2 separate regions of the Homo sapiens genome follow, and region 1 is linked to region 2. Evidence: fine-mapped expression QTL. Tissue or cell type: whole blood. Region 2 holds a variant in brackets; the other region holds the start of a gene. All regions are shown on one strand. Distances are between the middles of the regions.

Evidence for each region. PIP is the estimated chance that this variant, and not a neighbour inherited with it, causes the effect.
Region 1: SEC22B starts here. The variant in region 2 is fine-mapped to the expression of SEC22B in whole blood (TOPMed, PIP above 0.99).

The regions. Positions count from the first base shown.
Region 1 is chr1:120,173,415-120,181,523 of GRCh38, forward strand. SEC22B (SEC22 homolog B, vesicle trafficking protein) reads right to left here and starts at 3,106. Exons shown (of 5, transcript NM_004892.6): 1 at 2,893-3,106. The coding sequence starts at 2,967. RefSeq lists enhancers at 2,228-2,793, 2,728-3,097, 2,794-3,359, 3,138-3,267.
Region 2 is chr1:120,381,590-120,389,698 of GRCh38, forward strand. No RefSeq gene overlaps it. Among named protein-coding and RNA genes, the nearest start is that of NBPF8, 29 kb to the right of the region's middle. The variant C/A (reference allele first, on the strand shown) is at 4,581.

The DNA of each region.
Region 1 (8,109 bases), 210 kb before region 2:
TCCACATTTGAGAAGAAAAGCTCATCTCTCTTCCTGCCCTAAGTCTAAATTTTCAGTTAAACACAGAGGAAACACCCTGTATAAAATACTCTGTCTACATTATTTTGTAAATTTTACTCTCTATTGTATTATCTGAATAACTGTCCATCTTCGGTAATATGGCAGCTTGTACAGGCACCTAGTAAATACCTAAAATATGATATCTATTATCAGTGTAAATACTGAAAGTACACTGATAAGAAAACAAAAACATACAAAAATGAAAATACATTGAATTATCTGGCCTGGACAATTAAGGTGATTAAATATAAAACTGTTTGGTTGAGATATCTGTTTATTAAAAAGTTATTCCTGGACTCCTAAGAGGTAAGACATCATTAAAAGGCCTTAGAACAAGGCAGTAAAGTACAGTGGTTAGGCACTAAAGTACAGTGGTTATTAAGTTTTTGTCTGAGTCGACAAAAACTTAATAAAAACCACTGGGTCTCAATTGGGGTGATTTTGCCCCCATGAGACATTTAGCAATGTCTAGAAATATTTTTGTCGTCATACAAACAAACAAAGTGGGGAAGGGTAGTGGTACTACTGGCATCTAGAGGGTAGAGGCCAGGAATATTGCTGGACCTCCTACACAATATACAGAACAGTCCCCAAGAACAAATAATTATCCATCCCCAAATGTCAACAGTGCCAAGGGGAAAAACCCTGATGAAAAATTTCATTATGCCACTCATTAGCTGTGAATTTAGGCAAGTGATCTATCCTCTCTAAGCCTCAGAGCTTCCTTATCTATTATTGGAGATTTTAATAGTACCTGTTCTAATATGGTAGTATGAGGATTAAATAAAAAAATGAACTTAATAGGCTTAGCACAGTGTTTGGTATGTAGTAGGCGCTTTTATAAATGTTCTGTATACTATTAAAATAGTAAAAGTAAGCCTAAGATTCAGATCTTTACAGACATTAAAAGTTTAGGCAAACTTTATTATTCAAAGTCAAAATTCCTAAAGGAAAATACTATGGCACTACAATCACAAAAATATTTGTGTGTAAAATTTCTTTCCTTGTCAATTAAACAAAGCATCCCATCTTGATAAACCAATATGAAACCAATACCAAATTTATAATTAAAAAACAATAAATCAATTAATTTTTCAATAAAGTATCATGGCAGAGAGTAGGGGCCACTAATATTAAGTAGACTTTCAAGTTCACTTTGTATTCTTTGCTAACACTGGAATTCAATGCAATAATTTAAAAATTGACCAGATTCCATCCCCCCTACCCCCAACACACAGCCACCCACTGTAGGAAAACTATTTTTTAGTCAAACTACACATCCTTCAAGGATATTCCCCTGCACTATCTACTTTGTTCAAATCATATTCCTAGGTTCATTTGAACAATTACACTCCTTCTGCAGGATGGTCCTAGAGTATTCCTGAAAAACATTTCACATTAGCAAATCGGGGTATGTTAAATTGTTCACGGTTTATTTCAAAGATTAGACTTTGTTTTTATGTAATGAATAGAATATATTTCACTTAGCATGACCTGCAACTTTATTATCTGTATCACCACTCTCCTAAAAGTGAAAGTAACTATATTTCCAAATCAAACCTAAAAAGGCATATAACCAAATAGAATAATAGTTCCTTACTACTGGATCCTACTGTTACCTTAGTGTCATACCTTCTGGGAAGACTTTCCTGATTTCCTAAAACCAACTTAGATATATTTTCCATGTTCAAGCACAAAACCCTCTTCCTTCTCCTTAGCAGTTAAACTACATTTTAATAGTTTGTTGGTTATCTGATTTTTCCACTAGACTGTAAGCTCCACAAAGGTAGAGACTGTGTACTCTAACTCCCTGCATTAACACTATGCCTGGCACATTTGATGTGCTCAGTAAAAATTTTTTGCATTAATATATGAATGAAAAGTCCAACAGAAGAAATGTGCAAACTATTTTTTCAATATCTCATCTTTTTTTAAGGCTCAAGGTTTTACTTAGACTGTATGGAAAAGTAAAATAAAATTGATCACTTTAAACAAATTATATAAATTCCATTCTCAGCTTTGTCTTCAGAACCTCCCAAGCTTGCTCCAGAAACTTGTCTTACTTCAGAAATTTCCACTGTGTTTCTAAAACACAAAACATCTTTCTTTTAAGACATCTGGAGTTAGTGCTGTTTTTAATCAATTCAGTATACTTTTGAGCACCTACTAGCATAAAGCAGCTATTGTAAAAGGTATGGATAACAAAGAGATGATTAAGACCCGTCGTTTGCCCGCTAGGAAACTCAAGTTATTGAAAGACAAAGAAAAAAATAAGTTACAATGTATTGCAGGAATGTGGTACGGCGTATTGGAGAAGGTGGGAACTGGGGATAATCCTGAAAGAATGTGATGTACTGAAATTTAACAGGTGCTTTTATGTGGCAATATTACCTCACCCACTTTCAAAAGATGTCAGCAAGCTAGGTCAAGGATCAGGTGCCACGTTATAGACTTGAAGAACTTGGCTGATTTTTTCCCAGGATTTATCCATCAGCAGTCCTATTAGCAGCAGAAAATTAGAAATCCTGAATTTTAACAAAGTCCCTAAAGAGTCAAAGAACACTGGGTGATCACAATCAACCAAAGCTACCACTTCTCCAGAGCGTTTTTCTAAAGAGAAACAGCTAACACAAAAAACTTAACTCCTCCTTCAGGAAAGATTTCCTCTTCGCCGGTAGTCTCTCCTACACCAAAAGATAAAAGCGCACTTCAGAGAGGTCGGGAGTGCCCGGGAAGTCACAAAGGTCTCCCGGTCCTAGGAAGGAATCCGATGCTGAGGGCAAAGCGCGCTGACAGAGACTTGGGGTCGCGGGTCGTGAGTAAGCAGCTCACCTGTTCGTCCTCCTGCATCGAGGCGGCCAGCGGGAGCCCGTCCGCCACTCGGGCGATCATTGTTAGCAACACCATCTTCACAAACTACAGGGATCCAACACTGGCCCGGAAGGCCCTTGGCGCCGTCCTCACTTCCTCCGCCGCGACAACAGTTATACCCTATGTCTCAGTTACCGGAGATCCAGCTGCTTGCGTCTCCGCTTCCCGCTGAGGTGGCCGGAAACAGCGCAAGAGCTTTCCACTACCGGTCCCCAGAATTGGCTTCCCTCAGAGAACCACAACTATCAGAACACTGGTTCCGCGATCTGCCTTCCACCTTCTTAACTTCCAAGGTCTGGCTGGGTTTTCTGAATTTGAGGCTTCGAATAAGCCTCGCCCTTTGAGCGGCCATTGCACCCAAGCTGAATCAGAATTTTCTAGTTCCTGAAACTAAGTCTTGGGAGAGAGCTGGGAAGGAGGGTGGGAGTTAATGGGTAATCCCCATTAACCACTAACCGTTAACCATGAAGGGTATGTAAAAAAAGGAAAACCCTGAAAATTAGGCTATTTTCATATTTATTTTTTTCTGTTTTCTATGTCATATATTCTATAAAATGTTCTATATTTATATATTTCTAGACAAAGATTTTTGTCTATTTTTGCTTGTTTGTTTATGCGGTATCCCCACCAGGCTCCTTAAACAGTTTATGGTAAGAAGTCAATAAATATGTGTTGTATGTGTGAATAAATGAACAAGTACAGGACATCTTGTACCACCTAGGTCAGTCACCTACAAAAAGCTAGGATCAGGCCGGGCGCGGTGGCTCACGCCTGTAATCCAAGCACTATGGGAGGCCGAGGCGGGCGGATCACGAGGTCAGGAGATCGAGACCATCCTGGCTAACATGGTGAAACCCCGTCTCTACTAAAAAAACACAAAAAAATTAGCCGGGCGCGGTGGCGGACGCCTGTGGTCCCAGCTACTCACTCGGGAGGCTGAGGCAGAATGGCGTGAACCCGGGAGGCGGAGCTTGCAGTGAACCGAGGTTGCGTCACTGTACTCCAGCTTGGGCAACAGAGCGACACTCTGTCTCAAAAAAAAAAAATAAATAAATAAATAAATAAAATAAAAACTAGGATCTCTGATATATCTAGGTGTTCCCATCTCTTTGTTTTTTGGTGTCCCCATCTCTAAAGTGGGGATATGATCGGCCTTTCAGGGTTTTAATGAATATTAGATGAGAAAATCTAGGTGCAAGGCTTTCAAAAGCTAAAAAAAGAATTATACAAATGCTTTTATTTATCATTGCTTAATAATGACTACTCTTTACTAAGTGCTTACAGTTAGTTCTCGCATTAATAGAAACACTGTTAAGTATGTTCTAGATATTAGTTAAGCAACCCAGTAAGCTTGTTTAGTATTATATCTCCACTTTGTAGTTGAGAGGAAAGCCTCAGAGAGCTAGCAGTGATGGGAACAGGATTTGAGCTCAGGTTCAACTTCAAATCCTGATGTGATTCTGTCTTAACTTGTACCCATTAATTAAAGAGCTCAGGCTTTTGTTACCTTTTATATTGGCCTTCAGGATTAGAAGAAAACCAATATTATTTTTGTGTGGCATTTTCTTTATTAAAAAGATTCTTATTTCAATAGCTTTTGGGTTACAAGTGGGTTTTTGTTACATAGATGAATTATATAGTGGTGAAAGCTGAGATTTTAGTGCACCCATCACCTGAGTTGCGTACATTTTACTTAATAAGTAGTTTTTTAACCCTAGGTCCCTTCCCACCCTCCGCCTTCTAAGTCTCTAAAGTCCATTATATCACTCTGTATACCTTTGTGTACTCATAGCTTAGCTCACACTTAAGTGAGAACATACGGTTTTTGGTTTTCCACTCCTGAGTTACTTCACTTAGAATAATGGCCTCCAGCTCCATCCAAGTTACTGCAAAAGACATTATTTCACTCCTTTTTATGGCTGGGTAGTATTCCATGGTGTGTGTGTGTGTGTGTGTGTGTGTGTGTATCACATTTTCTTTATCCACTCATTAGTTGACAGGCACTTAGGTTGGTTCCACATCTTTGCAATTGTGAATTATGCTGCTAAGAAAAGTAATATTATTTAATGATAGACTTTTGAGACCAAAACCCAATAAGACCTAGTGATTGACTCCACATGAAAGATGAAGGACTACAATAAATAAGACAAAAAAAATTGTGCTATTAACAGAGACAGAAAGTGGAATGGAAGTGAATCCTTGTGTATATGGGAGTCTAAGTTGGTAGAATCATAGTACCTTACATTTAAAATAGCCCATAGATATAAGTTGTTCTAATTTCCCTTCCTTCCACTCAACAAGGACATGCCTTCTCCACAGCCTCAAATGATGGTCATTTGAGTAATGGGGAATTAATGCTACAAATATTTTAACTAAGGATACAGACTGCCATGTTGATTAGAGAAGCAGAGAGAGAAGAATGCAGGTGTGTGCCGAGAAGCAAATTCGGAGCAAGAATCCACATCTTTTTTCAGTTCCTGACTCTAGGCTCCTCCCAAGGCCCATACACATTCCTGCCATTGGGTTCTATCAAACACTATTGCTTCTTTATAACAAATTCCCTCTTTATCCTGCTTAGGCTACTTTGAGTTAGTTTGTTACTTAAAAACCAAAACACACACACACACACACACACACACACACACGCAAACTAATAAAAGCATGGAGTCACCCTGGAGCAATTATTTCTTGGAACAACAACATTCATACTCACACCTCTTACTTTTATCCTTTGTAAACACACTAGATGACTCTGGCACCCTTCGAACACATTGATTCCAGGAAAAGGATAGTGATCTTAGGCTGCTAATAATTTCAGCCATCAGGAGAAAACTAGAGTTGTCTTGAAACTGCCCACTATTCAGACCTTGGGAGCTCTGGCATCTGAATTCCTTTTCCTTCTGACTTGATCAGCTTCATCTCATTCACATCCAAGTGTTGTCTTTGAGCTGCTGCCCTTTGATTCTTGGAGCAATACAGTACTGTGTAATAATGGTTAACACTGTGATCAGTAAGTACATGGAAGGTTCTCAACTATTTTACATTTAATTAAACAAGAGTATCAACAAACATTTGTACCGAACTTTAAAATTTATAAAGCCCACATATGTCCTTTGCCCTAAATCTGACAACCACCTCTGAAATGGATAAAATTCTTGGAGTTTGTAAATGTTGTACTAGGAAAAAAAAAAAAAGTAAACATAAGCCTTGAACGTCATAGTTACAGCTGCCAGCAAATTCTTGAAACTTATCAAAGAAATCGTGAAATGCACATATCTAAACCAACTTATATTAAGCTGCCTAAACAGGATAAGACTTTCCATTACAGCAGTCACACAGTTGCAGAAATTTTACAAGTGAGATCAAACGAAGCAATAGTTAAAGGTTTGTGTCCATTCATTCTTAAACAATTCTATCGAGTGCCTAATTCTATACCAGACACTAAGCTAAGTAATGAGGACGAATAAAGAATAGTCCCAGCAACTTGTGGCCCGTATCTACCCCCAGACCAAACACTGTCACTTAGGAGGTCTGCAAGTAAACTGCAGCTCCTGTTTGAATTACATGATTATATACATGGAAAAAACATTTCTTCTGAGAAACTGTGCTCCTGGAAGGCAAAAGAACAGATAGCCACTGTATCTGGACCAATATCTATCGATCTGGACTGTATGCATCAGTATGGCTGTACCAGCTATTAAAATACTGGAACATTTTCTTACAGATTAGTAAAAAAGCTATTGCCCTGAGCATCCCCTTCTTGAGCCCCTGCTACCCCAACAACATGCAAACGCTTAAGATTCCTGCTCCCCACAGTTCTGCCAGATTCCATTGTCTTTGGCGGTTTTCCAAGTTAGTCATTTTGAAAAGCTTCGCCTCCAGGCATGGCCATTAGCTACCCCCAGGGAATTAGAACGACCCCCGCCTTCCGCCCTGGCGCCTGCCCTCCGGCCACGCCTCCGGTGGGCTGCAGGGCGCAGGCCCTGGCGGGGGTTGGGAAGCAGCGCCCCAGGCAGGTTTACTGACACCATCTGCACTGGTGATTAAACACGAGTTATTTTGAATTACCATCCCTGATTAAACCTCCTCACAGTGCGAGCTGCGTGAAGGCAGGACTTTTCTTTATTCTTGAATTTTCACAGCCCTTAGCTGTGTCCTCCGCACAGTGCATCCAGTCAGAGAAGTGAAAGTGAAGGGTTAGAGGGGAAGGGGGAATGAGCCGGAAAGAACAAGGTGCGCTTTGGAAGTCCCGTGAAAGCCTCTGTTTAAAATAATTACGACTTTGGCCGGGCGCAGTGGCTCACGCCTGTAATCCCTGCACTCCGGAAGGCCGAGGCGGGTGGATCACTTGAGGTCAGGAGTTCGAGACCAGCCTGGCCAAAATGACAAAACCCCGTCTCTACTAAAAATACAAAAATTAACCAGGTGTGGTGGTGGGCGCCTGTAATCCTAGACACTAGGGAGGCTGAGGCAGTAGAATTGCTAGAACCCAGGGGGCGGAGGTTGCTGTGAGACGAGATTGCGCGCCACTGCACCCTAACCTGGGTGACAGAGCAAGACTCCGTCTCAAAAAAAAAAAAAAAAATTATGACTTTAAATAGCCTATTTCAAATATCAAGCCACAGCAAAGCTATCTCTTGCCTTCTAGAAGAAGCTATTTCATGAAACCGTAATACTTCTTCCAACATGTCTGTCTGGTTTCCCTACTTTGTCAGGAAAGCCTAGCAGAGAGCAGGCCCAGCTGGTTCACGCCTTGGAGCTTGGGATGTGTGCGGTGAGTAGGATAATTGGGTGTAGAAAGTAAAAAGTTTCCTCTTCAGAGTTTCCCTTCTTGTTAAAGAATAAATCATAAGTGTTAGAAATAATAGTTTCTTTTAAAGACTAACTTCCTTCAATCCTCCTTGCTTTGTGCTATTAACTCTCTGTTAAGCCCTATCCTATGTAGCTATTAGACATAAAGGAATAAGTACATTCTATGTCCTTGTACTTTAACCAAAATATTTGTGCTGGAGGTGCTGACGGGCATGTCTCAGCTCACAGCCTATGCCCCTTCCTTATTCAGGAATATTATTACTTTTCTAAGTCCTTTCATAAGCAACTTCCTCTTTTCCTTTGTCTTTCCATTGCTTTTACCTATTTAGAAAAGTTTTAAATTATTAGCCAGTCAGGTTTTAGTTT
Region 2 (8,109 bases):
CATTACAGAGAACTAGAAGAAATAGTGGAGAAAGAAACAGTTCTACAAAGACCCTAGATTTAAAAATAATCAGAGAAAAATGTTGTAAAACAACTCTTCTCATAACGTCCAAAGCTAGAACACACTTGAAACAATCTCAGCAAAAGAAAGCTGTCAAATATGCAGCCATAAAAAAGGATGAGTTCATGTCCTTTGTAGGGACATAGATGAAGCTGGAAACCATCATTCTCAGCAAACTATCGCAAGGACAGAAAACCAAACACGGCATGTTCTTACTCATAGGTGGGTACTGAACAATGAGAACACTTGGACACAGAAAGGGGAACATCACACACCACGAGCTGTCGTTGGGTAGGGGGAGGGGGGAGGGATACCATTAGGAGATATACCTAATGTAAATGACAAGTTAATGGGTGCAGCACGACAACATGGCACATGTATACATATGTAACAAATCTGCACGTTGTGCACATGTACCCTAGAACTTAAAGTATAATAATAATAATAATAACAATAATAATAAAAGAAAGCTGTTAAAAATGACCAGCATAGAATCTCTCTTCCCCACTGTCAGACAACATTTCAGTGGTCCCTGTAACTATTGCTCTGGTCCTGAATAAAATCTTTCTTGCCATGCTTGAAAAAAAAAAAAACAGAATTGCAAAATATGTCTCTGACAAAGGACTAATATCAAGAATCTACAAGGACCTCAAAGAATTCAAGAAGAGAAAAAGAAACAACCCCATTAAAAACTGGGCAAAGGACATGAACAGACATTTTTCAAAAAAAAAAAAAATGCAAGCAGCCAACAAACACATGAAAAAATGCTCAGAATCACTAATCATTAAAGAAATGCTCATTAAAACCACAATGAGATATCATCTTATATCAGTCAGAATGGCTGTTATTAAAAAGTTGAAAAAAGAAAAAAACAGAGGTTGACTTGGATGCAGAGCAAAGAGAGAACGCTTATACACTATTGGTGGGAATATAAATTAGTTCAAGCTCTATGGAAAACAGTATGAAGATATCTCAAAGAACTGAAAACAGAACTACCCTTTGACCCAGAAATATTCATAACTGGACACCTACCCAAAGGAAAACAAATCATTATAGGACAATACCATGACAATAGCAAAGTCACGGAACCAACCTAAGTCTAACCTATGGGTCCATCAATAATTGATTGGATAAAGAAAATGTGATATATATACACATCATGTAATACTACACCACCATAAAAAAGAATGAAATCATGTCCTTTGAAGCAACATGGATGGAGGTGTAGAACATTATTCTAAGTGAATTAACTCAGAAACAGAAAATAAAATACTGCATATTCTCACCTACAAGTGGAAGCTAAACAATTGGTACACATGGACATAAAGATGGAAATAATAGACACTGAGGTTTCCCAAAGGGGAGAGGATGTGAGTGTTGAAAAACTACCTATTAGGTACAATATTCATTATTTGGGTAATGGGTGAACTAGAAGCCCAATCCCCACCAGTATGCAATATACCCATTTAACAAACATTCACATGGACCCCTTGAATCTAAAATAAAATAAATATTTTTTAAATGACTGGAATGTGTGAAAAAGGAAACAAAGAACATTTCTAAAATAGAAAGATGCAAAAAATAAATTTTTAAATGCAATGGCTGTTCACTATTTTGTAGTAGCTAAAGTAGGTACTAGTGAATCCAAAGATCAGTCAGAAGAAATTATGCAGAATGCATCACAGCAAAACAGAGGCAGTGAGACATTTTACCATATTTTTACTTGGATTCCTAAACAAAGAGGAGAAAGAACATAGAACAGAGAAAACCTTTGTAAGTAATATTTTAAGATAATGACTGATACCCTACATCAAAAGAAAGCCAACGGGAAGTTCCTAAATCTATAGAGGGTACACAAACATAAAACTACACTTGAACATGTCATGGCGAGTTGGACGAACCAAAAACAATAGTAAAACCAAAGAACAACCACACACATGCATAAATCCACAAGGTAGTGAATAAAACAGCTTACTTTCAAGGCAGCAGAATGGCATTGACCACTAACTACTCAACAGAAATGATGAAAGACGGATGCCAGAAGAATCAGATCACCAAAGTGCTAATAAAAAATAATTGCCAATCTAGAATTTCTAGGACCCACTTTTTAAGAGTAGGATGAAATGCAGACATTCTTGGGCAAACAAAAAAAGAGAGTTTATCTGCAGCATATCCTCAGAAAAGGATGTAATTAAATCAGAGAAAAAGATGAGGATCAAGAAGGTAGGAAACATGCAAAAATCATGACAAGTAGTTTTTGCCATTAAGAAAAAGATGAAACTAATTAATTCCACAAAACAAGTCAAGAATAACTCATGAATTAGAGGGAGCAGAAATGGAGTTGCCATCTTCAAAGGCACTCATTTTCAGGAGATGTATACAATTTTTGGAAAAACTTGTATTTGAAAAGTTAAGTATGCATTTTGCAATTTTCAGAGAGTGAAAGAATAGCAACAAAATACTTATAAACTAGGAAAGGAAAAATCTTGAATAAGAAAATAATCTAACCAAAAAAGCCACATTTAAGTACTATGTTTATTTTGTTAAATTAATTTAAATTTTAAAAAATTATCTTCACTCTATGCAATAATATTTGTGAAATTTTGACTCTGGTGTGTAAATTAACTTGTTTACTGCATTGAATCCTTTGTCATTTTTGTAATACTTTGATTATCTCCATCTAAATATTCAAACATCACCTCTTAACATAACCAGTGGTACACTTTCCATGATTTAGATATGGTGGTCTGACTAGCGTTGAAACTTGAGAGAAGCTAGCCTCAATAACAGGACCCAGGGATAACCATCTAGTTCTCCAGCGAAGGGCCTTAAGCCCTCTGGGGGTCCACCTTGTTGGTTACTCACTAATCAAAGATGTGCCCGGCCCCTAGTTTTCTCCTCCCTGACTCAAGTTCATGTCATTCAACTCTCTGCCTGGTTCACGGACTCATGGTATTCTGCCCTACTCCTGCTGCTTGGCTATCCACCAGTTACCAAAAGCTGAAGTTGATGCAACCACGTGAAATTTCTACAAGACCCTCCCCTCTTTGGGCTCCCATCACATTGTCACTACTGCCAGATGTCATCAGCGTGAGAGAATCAGTGGTGGTCCACAGGAGCATCTTGTTGTCCCTCCCTAAATGATACCAGCACCACTTTCCTCCCAAAATCAATGCTCCCAACCACAATACCCCCCTTGACTTCACTTGTGTTCCCAGCAAGCCATCAAAACTAGCACCAAGGCTCTCTCTAGGAGGCTATAAATATGTATGTTTTCCTTTTTTCTGTCTTTAAATGGTGAGTTAACACAAACAGACCTACATACACCAGACCCCAAGGTATCAATCTGGATCCCTTCACAGGATCCTTTTCCATTCACAGAACCAAGAAAAAAAAGCAAACTCTGAAGCCCAGCCCTTCCCTCCTCTATTCCGGAGCAGGCAGCTGATGGGACGCAAATGGGGCTGCTGAGCTTCAGGGTGGAAATGGAAGCCAGTGCCTTGTGCTCCTTGTGATGTGAAACGTGTTGCAGCTGCGCAGAGAAACAAGAGTTTTCACTGGACACAGTGCAAGGAGCAAGCAGGATGCCTTTCATGGACAGAAGCTGCATCTGTCTATACTTCAGCCATTCAATCAACAAACATTTCATGATCATCAGTTACTGCTATGAAAGGTAGATGCTGAGGGTAAAACAAGGAACAAGATGAGAATGCCCCACTCCCATATGGCACATGTAAAAGCATAAAAGTCTATCTGAATCATTTTTGAAACAGAAGGCCCATGACATTTCCTGCTGAGTCCACGTTGGCTCTTGTTTGTGGATACCAGCACATATTAAAATTATCTGAAATATTCAGTTGTGAGCCCCCTCCCCTGATATGGTTAGGCTTCGCGTCCCCACCCAGATCTCATCTTGAATTGTAATCCCCATAATCCCCATAATCCCTATTTGTCAAAGGAGAGACCAGGTGGAGGTAATTGAATCATGGGGATGGTTTCCCCCATGCTGTTCTCATGATAGTGAGTGAGTTCTCCCAAGATCGGATGGTTTTATAAGGGGCTTCTTCCCCTTTGCTTAGCACTTCTCCTTTCTGCCACCTTGTGTAGAAGGTGCCTTGCTTCCCCTTCACCTTCCACCATGATTGTAAGTTTCCTGAGGCCTCCCCAGCCATGCTGAACTGTGAGTCAATTAAATCTCTTTCTTTTATAAATTACCCAGTCTCAGGCAGTTCTTTATTACAGTATGAAAATGGACTAATACAGTGAGAAAAAAATAGCTCTGGAGGGCTGGGTTACATTCAGGACATGTACTAAATATTTTAATGCATTTTTTTAGCAAGCACGTAAAATGTCTCCCCCAAGGCTTTAAGCTCTCTTTCTACTTCCCTAAAGGTTTCCCCATCAAAATAGGAAATAAATATTGAAGCTAGAAAAGGCTTGTCCCCTTCAAAGTAAGTAAGGGCACGCTTCATGACAGGCATAACTTTCTTCAGACAGTGGGGGAGGACACTTAATTCCTT[C/A]ACCAAAGAAAAAAAAAGTTACAAAACAGCAACCTATGGAAACAAAAACATGGAATCAATGCATCGCCTGAAATAACTTCTCTGTAGTCCTGAGGGTGGTGTTTTGTTTGGCTTGTTCTCCTTCCCACCTTTTTATACCCCACAAGGATCCTTCTCATTCTGTTGTAGCCAGGGCTCCTAGAGAAGGCTGTCAACATTGAAGGGCCCAGATCCCTTCTACCAGTTTTTCTTGTGCTTCCTATGTGCTTGTAACTGTGAATCTCCTGCTTTTCAAACAACTCTTCTGCCTTTTGTATGGGTATACATTAAAGGGGAAAATCAGGGCCTCTTCACACTACTCTGGCAAAATCAACCTGAACTGCTGGATTATAGGTCTTGGCATCTGGAGCTGCCTGCTTGAGCCCTGGCAGGTCTGGAGGCTTGGGGCTCTTTCATTGACTCAGGAAATATTTCTGCTTCCCACCCAGGACTTCTGTTGTCTCTTCCTCCCTTCTCCTCCCCTGCTCTCAGGACTCTTAGATGTAGCCCAGGTTTGCTTCCACACAGTTGACATTGGCGGTGCATGGTCTTCTCCCCTCTACGCCCTCAGATCTCCATGCCTGTGCCTATGACACGTGCCACCTGCACCTGTGTAGCCAAGCCTGGCTCCTCATCCGTGGCCACTCCTGCCCCCACAACCTGCCAGTCCTGCCTCCTTTTTGCCTGCCTCCTGCCTATCTTTACTTCACTGATTTATTTGGCTGGAAAATATTTCTACAACTTCCCCTCCCACACTCACCTGGGGCTATGACATTGTTGTGCACACTGGTTGGGCCTCGCCCCTGCCACCTAACAAGTACATCCTACAGGCCCAGGAGGGCATTATCTGTGGTTTTGAATTTCTAGTGTCTCGAACTGTACTGGCCCAGAGAGGACCTCAAATATGGAAAACTGAAGTGATTGCTTTCTGCACGCGTTACCTATGCACCCATGCATAACTCACACAAACTTACTGAATCTTCATTTACTCTTCTGTAAAAGGGGAGTAATCAAAGAAATGCACTTTACTAACAACAAGAGGATGGCATAGTTTATCTTTTAAACTGATAAAGATGTTCTGAAATAAGAATCTATGTTTTCAAGGGTACAGGACTTTGGTAGTTACACCATGACAGTAAAGATGCATATTTTAGGAACTTGGTGGGGGATAATTTGACAATACACATCTACATGTTTACATTGTACATACCCTTTGACTGACACTCCACTGTTAGAAATTTGTACTAAGGAAATAATCAGACCTACAACATAAGCACTTAGCTATAGGAATACTGGTCAAAGAGTTGTTGATCATACTCAAAAATTAGAAACAATCTAAATATGCAATAAGAAATATTTAGGCCGGGCGCGGTGGCTCACGCCTGTAATCCCAGCACTTTGGGAGGCCGAGGCGGGCGGATCACGAGGTCAGGAGATCGAGACCATCCCGGCTAAAACGGTGAAACCCCGTCTCTACTAAAAATACAAAAAATTAGCCGGGCGTAGTGGCGGGCGCCTGTAGTCCCAGCTACTTGGGAGGCTGAGGCAGGAGAATGGCGTGAACCCAGGAGGCGGAGCTTGCAGTGAGCCGAGATCCCGCCACTGCACTCCAGCCTGGGCGACAGCGAGACTCCGTCTCAAAAAAAAAAAAAAAAAAAAAAAAACAACAAAAAAAGAAATATTTAAAATAAATTATATTGCATTCATCTGATGTAATATTATACAGACATTTAGAAAGCTCTTATAGTCAAAGGATAAGTAGGTTACCTTTGGCATATTAAATGAGTAAAACTGATACTAAGTTGATATACCCATTGTGATATAATTTTCTTTGGTTCTTAAATATTTTTATATACCTAAGGAAAAAGATTAAAAGCTTATGAAACCAAAATATTCACAGTTTAGTTATCACAGTCTAGTGTGATTATGGGTAATTTTTATTGTTTTAATTTCATATTTTTCTGTTCAAAGTTCCATTGCTTGTTTAATTAAAAAAAACTTTTAAATAATATTATAAAATGACCATCACAGAAAAAAATATCATTAGGCAATATTGCCATGACTATAGACCTTTCTCCCTACACTGTTATTCTTACAGTTGGATGCTTTGAATCGGGAAGTGATATATCGCCTTGCTTTTCGCTGGAGAAGGAAGCGCCAGCCTTTGTGAGCATGTGTATCACAAGCTAACTAGCACGAAGATTGCATAGCTCTTTCTACATAAGGCTACTGTTCGCAGAAATTTGGTCCATGGTCTCCAGTCTCTTGGGGTCTCACGCTCTGTGAAAATCTTCGTGTTTTTCCCTAGCCCCCAGAGTCACCTTTCACACAGCGTCTGCTTGTAACCGCGGTCCCCACAGGAGTTTGTAGGATTTCTGTGCCAGCGGTGAAGGTGTTCTCACCTCATAGAGCAAGGTAGAAACTACGCAGACAGGCGCTGTTCTTTGGGATGAAAGCAGGGCCTTTGGGGCTCTTTCTTAGTGTCCCCGTTCGGTTGTAGACATAACACGCTTGCTTTGTGTAGGAGATCGGCTCTGCCGGCGCCCAGGGGCCCTAACGCAGTTCATCGAGGCCCGCAGGTCAGAACTGCAGTCTCACCTGTCTTGGCGGAAATGCGCTGCGCTCCTCCCTGTACTACATAAGCACGAGAATTCCACTACAGAAGAAAACCCCAGGCCTAGTGATGGCGGTTCTGGGCATTTTGCCAGCTTCTCCCAGGGTGTGCTTTCTGACCCCACCCACTTCTGATCTGTAATGTCATGGTCAATAGAAACTACTGGGCCCAAACGGAAAAGGCAAGGAGGAACACAGCGGGAAAGCCTATGGCGTTCCCTGGTGGCTACCCCGGGGACTGCACTCATAGATCCGCGTGTTCCGAGAAGCCTCTGCCATCCCGACCCCGGAGCCGTGCAGAAACCCGCGGCTCCAAAGAAAACCGGCTAGAACGCACAGGAAGCCCAGCCAGTGTTCAGGACACTGCGAGTGGAAGCCGTACGTCCCACGGACTGATCTAGTTTGCTGAAGACGAGCCATTTACTTCTAACCCCAGCAGCGGACATTGCCTTGCTCAAATATAAAATATATGAACCAAGACCGAAAGCAACTCTTATTGCGTTACTGATGAGCAAACGGGTTTTTAGAATGGTTAAGAAATGTCCCTTGTTTTGGGACCGTCATCACTAACGTATGCTTGGGATTCCTGATCGAGGAGTTTCTGAGCAAAGCAGCCCACCAATCCAGTGGCTGAGAACGGCTTGGATATTGGCTTCCAGGCGCATCAGAAATACCGAGGTTCTGACAAAGACGTGAGCTTCTGTCTGCCTTTGGGAAGGCCTTCTTCCAGTCCTGGCGCTGCCGCTTGCCTTCTGTTTGACCTGGGGCCAGGTCCTTCAATTTGCTAGGCTTCAAGTTGGAAAGTGTTACAGGAAAATAATAATGCGAAGTGCTTCTTAGAGTTATTGCACAGATTACAGAAGATAGTCTAATAGTACAGCTAGCATCCTGTATGGCT